Homo sapiens: one gene and its partner. The protein of the gene in region 2 purifies or fractionates together with the protein of the main gene of each other region. This does not show direct contact. Each region holds a gene or a part of one and is shown on either strand. Other genes may lie near its edges.

Region 1 (3,829 bases), on a different chromosome or scaffold from region 2:
GGGCAGAATGGCAAATTGGTTGTTTTTACAAAGGGAAGCAAAATTCATGCACTTCCATTAAGGAGAGTATTTGAGTTCATATATTGTTTCATAGCCTTGTTTATGTTAGAAGTTATTTTAAAATGTTATTGTCAGATATAGAATATCTATTCCATACGATTTTAAAAATTTAGAGATTGTCAAAGATGTTTACTTAATTTACACAAATGAAATGACAGAATTGTAAATCCAACCTTCTTTTTGCAAGAAGGCCTGAGGTCCAGGCTATGTAAAGCTGTATTTGCATGTTTAGGATCATGTCTTTCAAAAAATGCATTTGGGGATGTTTACACTGCTATTTATGGGACCAGTTGCTAATTCAGTAATTTCTTTATGGTTCTGTAACTACAGATTGATTCACAGCATATGGGCTGATATTCTTAATGTGTACGAAAAAGCCATGTTGAGATGGGAATTATTTAAAAATTTTTTTTCTCCCCATTGAATTTTCTCTTTAGATATGTCAGTTGAAGAAATTTTCTTGGTTATTTCTAATTTTTGAATATATTTGATTAATAACCTATTTTATTATAACTGTTAGAGTAAACATAATAATTTGAAAGTTGTCTCTTATCATTTTCTTTAGCATGTTACACCAGACAGCTATATTCCATGCCTTGCAGACCTGTGCAAAGCACTATGGGAAGTTATGCTCAGCTATTATAGGACTATGGAATGGCATGAAAAGCATGACAATGAGGATACTGCTTCAGCTTCTGGTAGGAAAATATTTTTATTTTATTTTAAAAATTGAACTATAAATATCCCACATTACTGGAGTAAGAAGAAAGGAAAGGGGCAGGAATGCCTTTGGGATTTCAAAGATTACAGTGACCATAGGCTAAATATTGAGCAAAGAAAGTGATTCAGCTACTTCAAATGTTCTATTACCTTTAGAGAGTAACTGGGCCAAAGGACTTTTTAAGTGGCACATAGTACTAGTTTCCAGAAGTGTGTGCTGATGGCTTTAGGACTGAATTTATAAATTTTTGTTGTTGTTAATATTATTAGTTGCAAACTAGATAAGACATTGGTCTGTCTAAGTTTACTGTGAAATTAATGCTAGATGGTCAATATTAATCTATTTAGCCAATTTTCAAGTTACAGTAATAAAGCTAGGTTCTAAGAATTAATTATATTGATACTTTCCTTCCTGAAAATGAAGCAAGACTAGAATTTCATTTTCAAAATGATGTTTTAAAATATTCATCTTTGAATGGAAAATATAACTTTAAATGACTGTGGTACAGTCAGCTAAATAATAAAGAATACGTCTTTGAAAAATTATTGTATTTATTAATCATTCTATTTAAATTGCTTCATTTGTATAATTATATATCTTAACTGATTATCCTTGAACAGTAGCTGAGATTGAATATTCAGAATACTTATAAAAACAGTAAATGATTTTATCAGCATTTTGTTTAATATGGATAAAATAAATTATACTGCACATCTTTTTTTTTGTATTATATACAATTTATTGTAGCTATTCAATCAAGTTACTTTAATAAACTTCCAGTTTCTGAGGGGCTTATTTTCTGTTGTTGGGTGAGTGGACAACACACCCAAATCTCACTGTTTGATTAAATGTTTTGGTAGTTTAGAAGGCATAGGTTTAATCTTTGTCTTGACTTACAAGAAGCTTGTAAATATAGAAAACAAAATAAGAGGAAAATTCCATGAATGGATTTTTATCCATTTGGAAATATTGTTGGGGAGAGTAAAGGAAGGGAGAGAAAGGCAGAGAGAAGGTTGGGCACACAGCCAGGATTCCAGGTCAGACTACTTTTACCCAAAACTTATACTTTTACCCTGTACTACCCCTGGGACCATGAGCTCTGCGATCTGAGAGGCCTGGCTTCAAGTTTTCACTTCTATTTACCAAAGGTGAGAACTTGAAGACACTGCTTATTTTTCCCATTCTTCAGTTTGCTCCTAAAATTGGTCAGTTAAAAAGCAAAGCAAAACCAAACCAAACCCTTAGAGTAGTAACGCATCTACCCTGCAGGGTTGTTGTAAAGTTTGGACAGCATGTAAGGTACTTATATTGGTGGTGGTTAATATGATGAAATGAAATGGATCAAGAGATAATATAATAATAGTGAAATACCTGGAGACTGTTAAGACATATTTGCTTTTCTAGTACATTATTTAAGGAGAAACCAAAGAAAACGTTTGGAATAGAATTAACACATATTTTAGATATCAGAATTTAGGTGACAGTTATGTATATATTCATCATGGTAAAGCTTGCTTTTTGCTTTAGGCCAATAGTTTACATTCGTTGGAATACTGAGTCAAAGTGAAAACTCTATCTGATCCTTATTACTCAACCCTCTTTGCCTAATCTGTATATTTTATGGATATTCAAGTGCTCAAGCTGTCAGCTGATAGTATCTAGGACTATAAAAAGTTACTTGTTCACCTGAAATTAATCCTTTTATATTCAGGAATAAAATTGTAGAAATTAGTAAATTGAAAATTACTTTTCATGGAACTTCATAAAACTGAAGAGGACTCTAGACTTTATCTGCTGTATCTCTTTAGTGATAATATTTGATACTGTTTGGTAACCTAATACTTTAACGTTCTAAGGTAAAGCTCTAAAGCTATAGTTCAGGTGCACTGCCTTAGGCTGCTGGATCCCTAACAGCCATACCATGGGTGTAATAATAAGGCTTACGTTTTAGGAGTGCTCAGAGGCAAACTTGTCATGCATCTGTGTATCTGAGGCCTGGCATTTCCAAGGACCTTTTACTGGTTATCAGTGGATAACTTCCCAACCTAAGACAAGATGATAACATACTCACTTAGTTGTTCTTCACAGGATATTCACACAAAAGTTTCATCTTTTTAATATAAATGTGTATGTGTCTTTTTCAGTTGTCTTTAGGGCGGAGATTGGAGGCAGATCACTGATCTTATCTATTAAACTAGACATTGTTAAATTATTTATCTGGAGTGGATAAAACTATTATTTATCATGAAAAATATAAAATATATGCATTATCACCTCACGCCTGAGTTTTAATGTAGACTATCCTCTTAGCACGCATATTAATTGATAATTCAGTTAATTGGTCCTGTAATGCCCTTCTCACAGCCTTTTACATGGTCTTGCAGTAGGCAGTATTGAGAACCTGGTCTCTGGGACCACACTGACTCAGGTAGAATCCCAACTCAGTCACATATGATCTCAGTGGTCTTAGGTATATTTAGCATTTCATAGTCTACGTTTATTTGTCTCACCAAATGGGTTTAAGTCTAATACCTATTGTTTGATATTGTTTTGATTGTATAAATATCAAACATATTTACTGTATCTTACATAGACTTACAATGTGTGAGAGGCCAAATAGAAATTATTTGGAAAACAAACACAAATTGGATTAAATCTAAAAATATATATTGTCTTTTATTTTCAGAAGGGAGTAATATGATAGGTACTGAAGAAACTAATTTTGATCGTGGCTACATAAAAAAGAAATTAGAACATGGACTTACACGAATATGGCAGGTTTGGTTTTTTTAAAATTATTTTTTTCACAGAAGCAATAGAAATGTCATGTCATAGTTTTAGAAATTCAGTTTTAAGTTTTCTATATATGTATTCTTTGCAGATTTAATCATATGTTTCTGTTTGGAATTAGGCTATCATTTAATTTCTGTAATGTATTTGGACTATAAGTGGCAGGAAAAAAGTTTTTTAATTTGAAAATCTCCACTGGAAATATTCATACATGTCTTGAGTACATCTTTTGTTTTAGAGGCCTAGCAAATTTCCACT
Region 2 (3,829 bases):
CTCAAGAGGCCCTGAAGTCCTCCAGCTGTCAGCGTAGGTACCTGTGAGGCCTTGGAGGTATGGGGACTGTTTTTCAATTGTTGGCAGATAACTGCTGTGGACGGATTAAGTAAATATGAAATTTCAAACATTATCGAGTTCAATCATTTGATTTTAAAATGTATAACTAATATCGTATACTAGTGTTAAGAAATTTCAATGCTAAATTATAGTCCTCATAATTGAAAAAACAACTTAGTATCCTAGAAAAAATTTTTTATAAATATTAAATTTGATTAATTTTAAAATAATAGGACTAGTGTTGAAACCTCAGTGTTTACATTTTTTACTGAAGTCTCCTGGGTGCTAATTATCAGAGGAGTGTGGTGCTTTGAGAAAAGCCCTGGGGGGTTGGAATGTTGGAACCCTGGCTCTTAGCAGTTTAACAGTTACACGATTCTCATTTAATCCCTCTGACTCTAGTGTTCTCATCTGTAAAATGGGACTAATAATCATAGTACCATCCTCATAGGATGCTTGTTAGGGATTAAATGAGAGGAATGCAATAATAATATGATATATGATAATACAGGTTGAACATTCCTAATCTGAAATCCAAAATGCTCCAAAATTTGAAACTTTCTTTTGAGTGCCAATATGACACTCAAAGGAATGCTCATTGGAGCATTTTGGATTTCGAATTTTCAGATTGGGGTACTCAACTAGTAGGTATTCTGCAAATATTCCAAAATCTCCCGAAATTTGAAATCCTAAACATTGCCAATCCCAAGCATTTCGGATGAGGGATACTCAGCCTGTCTAACGTGATGATATGTGAGCAGCTGGGCACACAGCAGGCCCTACATAGCAGGAGCTGAAATCTAGTGAAATCTTTCTGTGTATATAAATGAAGCCACAGATTCCTTTTATCTGTTCACCTTTCTCTAAACCAGACTGAGTGAACAGAGCCTCTCACTTCTCACTCTGGCTTGTGATGTGGCAGTGTTAGCAGAGGGGCTTCTCTCCCAGGCTTGCCCTGAGCCTCGGGCTTGTTCTCTTAGCTCTTCCACAGGTGCCAGCGTGCCGTGCAGGCCCTGCCGAGCCGGGCCCGGGCCTGCTCCGAGCAGGAGGGGCGGCTGCTTGGGAACGTGGTGGCCTCGCTGGCGCAGGCCCTGCAGGAACTCTCCACCAGCTTCCGGCACGCACAGTCAGGCTACCTCAAACGTGAGTGCTGCCCGGGCCTAGTGAAGGGATTTTGAGTAAGAAAAGCACTTTATGTTTTCTTTTTTGCCACTATTTTTTCATTTAGTCCAGTACCTTTCATTGTTAGCTTTTGAACATGCTCATACCTTGTACAGTAAAGGGAAGCCTCCTCCCCATGTGAAACCCTGGCTTGGAATGAAGGCACAGCGTGGGGTACCGACCAAGGCTGGGGGAGGGCACCAAGATAGTTCAGCATCTCAGCAAACAAAATTTGTTTTGTGTCAAGCTGCAAGAATTTGAAAATCAACCAAGCACATTTTAAAAACCTGTTGTTTTCTGGATGTTGGGGTTTGGGAGAGCTGCTCTTCAATAGGTAAAAAGCAGTTGTTATTACTGAAAGCCACATATTTGCATAACAACCAAAGTGTTTGAGAGCACCTGAGAAAACCTCCCCAGGGTCCTTGAAACACTTCCTCTGCTGGCACCACAGGTTTCACCCAGCAGACCTTTTCTTCCCAAATAGTGCAAAGCCAGATTTCAGCTCTCTTCTCATTCTAATCACCCTGTAAACTGGGTTTTTTAAAATTGCCCTTGCAATCAATAAAGTCCCCACATACTCCAAAAAACCTAGTTCTCCCTCCCTCTGACAACTGGCATATTTGTATTTTAATTTTATTATTTCCAAAATTTGATTAGGGCCATATGGAATTCATACTAGAGATGCTTCTAGAGAGAAATACTGATTTTTTAAAATGTTTTGTAACAGCAGTTAGATTAAATATTTCTGCTTCACTTAGAGATTCTCAGATGGTTGTGTCATTTTTATCTTGGCATCAAGTGAATTGTGCACATTTACACTGTGACTTTTGTCTTGAGTAATCCCAAATGCCTGCATATTGTTGTATGTTTGTAATCCTTTACTCTCCCTCCACCCCCATTGGAGATAGGCTTCTTTAAAGCGGCTAAGAATATCTCAATTTTGACTGTTGGAGTTTACTCTAGAATTCCCCCTTTTAATGGTAGAACAATACTCAGGATGGTTTACATATTCAAGTAAAATGAATTCCTATCTGTGATAGGCATGAAGAATCGAGAGGAAAGATCCCAGCATTTTTTCGACACATCAGTACCACTAATGGATGATGGAGACGATAACACTCTTTACCATCGGGTACGTGAACGGGCTGCAAAGCTGATTGCTGTGTCTGTGCACCCCATTCTGCATCTTTCACCTCCTAGACCTCGATCTTCTGTGCAGTGTCAGTGGATTGATACAGTTGACTTGTATATTCATCAGGTTGTTTTGCAGCAGGTGGAAGAACAGCCGTACTGTTTCTTCCTTTCCAAAGGCCACAGGGAGACCTTGTAATCTGCTTTCCAGAGCCTTTGGGAAAGTGGTCAACACCCTGCCTTCTTAGGAAGAGCCCAGAGAAACAGAGGGCTATCCCGGGGGTTTTGTTTATCTGCCCTTGTGGAGTTGGCAGACGTGGGCTTCTGTCTTCCCTGCTATGGCCTCAGAGCTTTAGATCCTGCTGGTTTAGGGAATTTGAATCTTTCCTGTTAGGGAAAAATGAGTGCTTACTGTGCTTTGTAGAAATATTTTCAGAATTCATTTTCTTTAAATTATTTTCATTGTCTTTAAATTATATCTAAACAAGTATACCATAGCTTTCCTGAGAGGGAAAACAATCTATCCAACACATTGTGCACTGTCTTGCTAGGGTTTTACAGAGGACCAGTTAGTTCTGGTGGAGCAGAACACACTGATGGTGGAAGAGCGGGAACGAGAGATTCGCCAGATTGTACAGTCCATTTCTGACCTGAATGAAATATTCAGGGACTTAGGGGCGATGATTGTAGAACAGGTACGTGAGCTGGCCTTCCTCGTGAATAGGTTTTCCTGCCATACTATCTGTACCTTCTTTTTCCTGTACTCCTTTCAGGGAAAAAAATTGGAGCCAATTTTCCCAACATGTGTGTGCACCTGTCCTTTATGTGTGTGTGGGTGTGTGTGTGTGTGTGTGTGTGTGTGTGTGTGTGTATATTAATATTAATCAAATATTAAATTTGATTAATTTTAAAATAATAGGACTAGTGTTGAAACCTCAGTGTTTACATTTTTTACTGAAGTCTCCTGGGTGCTAATTATCAGAGGAGTGTGGTGCTTTGAGAAAAGCCCTGGGGGGTTGGAATGTTGGAACCCTGGCTCTTAGCAGTTTAACAGTTACATGATTCTCATTTAATCCCTCTGACTCTAGTGTTCTCATCTGTAAAATGGGACTAATAATCATAGTACCATCCTCATAGGATGCTTGTTAGGGATTAAATGAGAGGAATGCAATAATAATATGATATATGATAATACAGGTTGAACATTCCTAATCTGAAATCCAAAATGCTCCAAAATTTGAAACTTTTTTTTGAGTGCCAATATGACACTCAAAGGATATATATACATAGCAATCCTAATCAGAAAATATGAAGTTCAAAATGCTCCAGAATTCAAAACTTTTTGAGTGTTAACATGATGCCACAGGTGGAAAATCCCTACACAAGACCTCATGTGACAGGTTGCAGTCAAAACTTTGTTTTATGCACAAAACTAGTAAAAATATTGTGGCCGGGCACGGTGGCTCACATCTGTAAT

What was found.
Region 1: the proteins of STX16 (region 2) and VPS50 purify together in Homo sapiens (pull-down; one study listed by IntAct). This does not show direct contact.

The regions. Positions count from the first base shown.
Region 1 is NC_000007.14:93,291,078-93,294,906, forward strand, and holds part of VPS50 (syndetin), read left to right. Parts: intron 1-625; coding exon 626-758; intron 759-3,467; coding exon 3,468-3,559; intron 3,560-3,829.
Region 2 is NC_000020.11:58,668,251-58,672,079, forward strand, and holds part of STX16 (syntaxin-16), read left to right. Parts: intron 1-1,040; coding exon 1,041-1,203; intron 1,204-2,261; coding exon 2,262-2,353; intron 2,354-2,903; coding exon 2,904-3,047; intron 3,048-3,829. UniProt on the Homo sapiens protein: SNARE involved in vesicular transport from the late endosomes to the trans-Golgi network.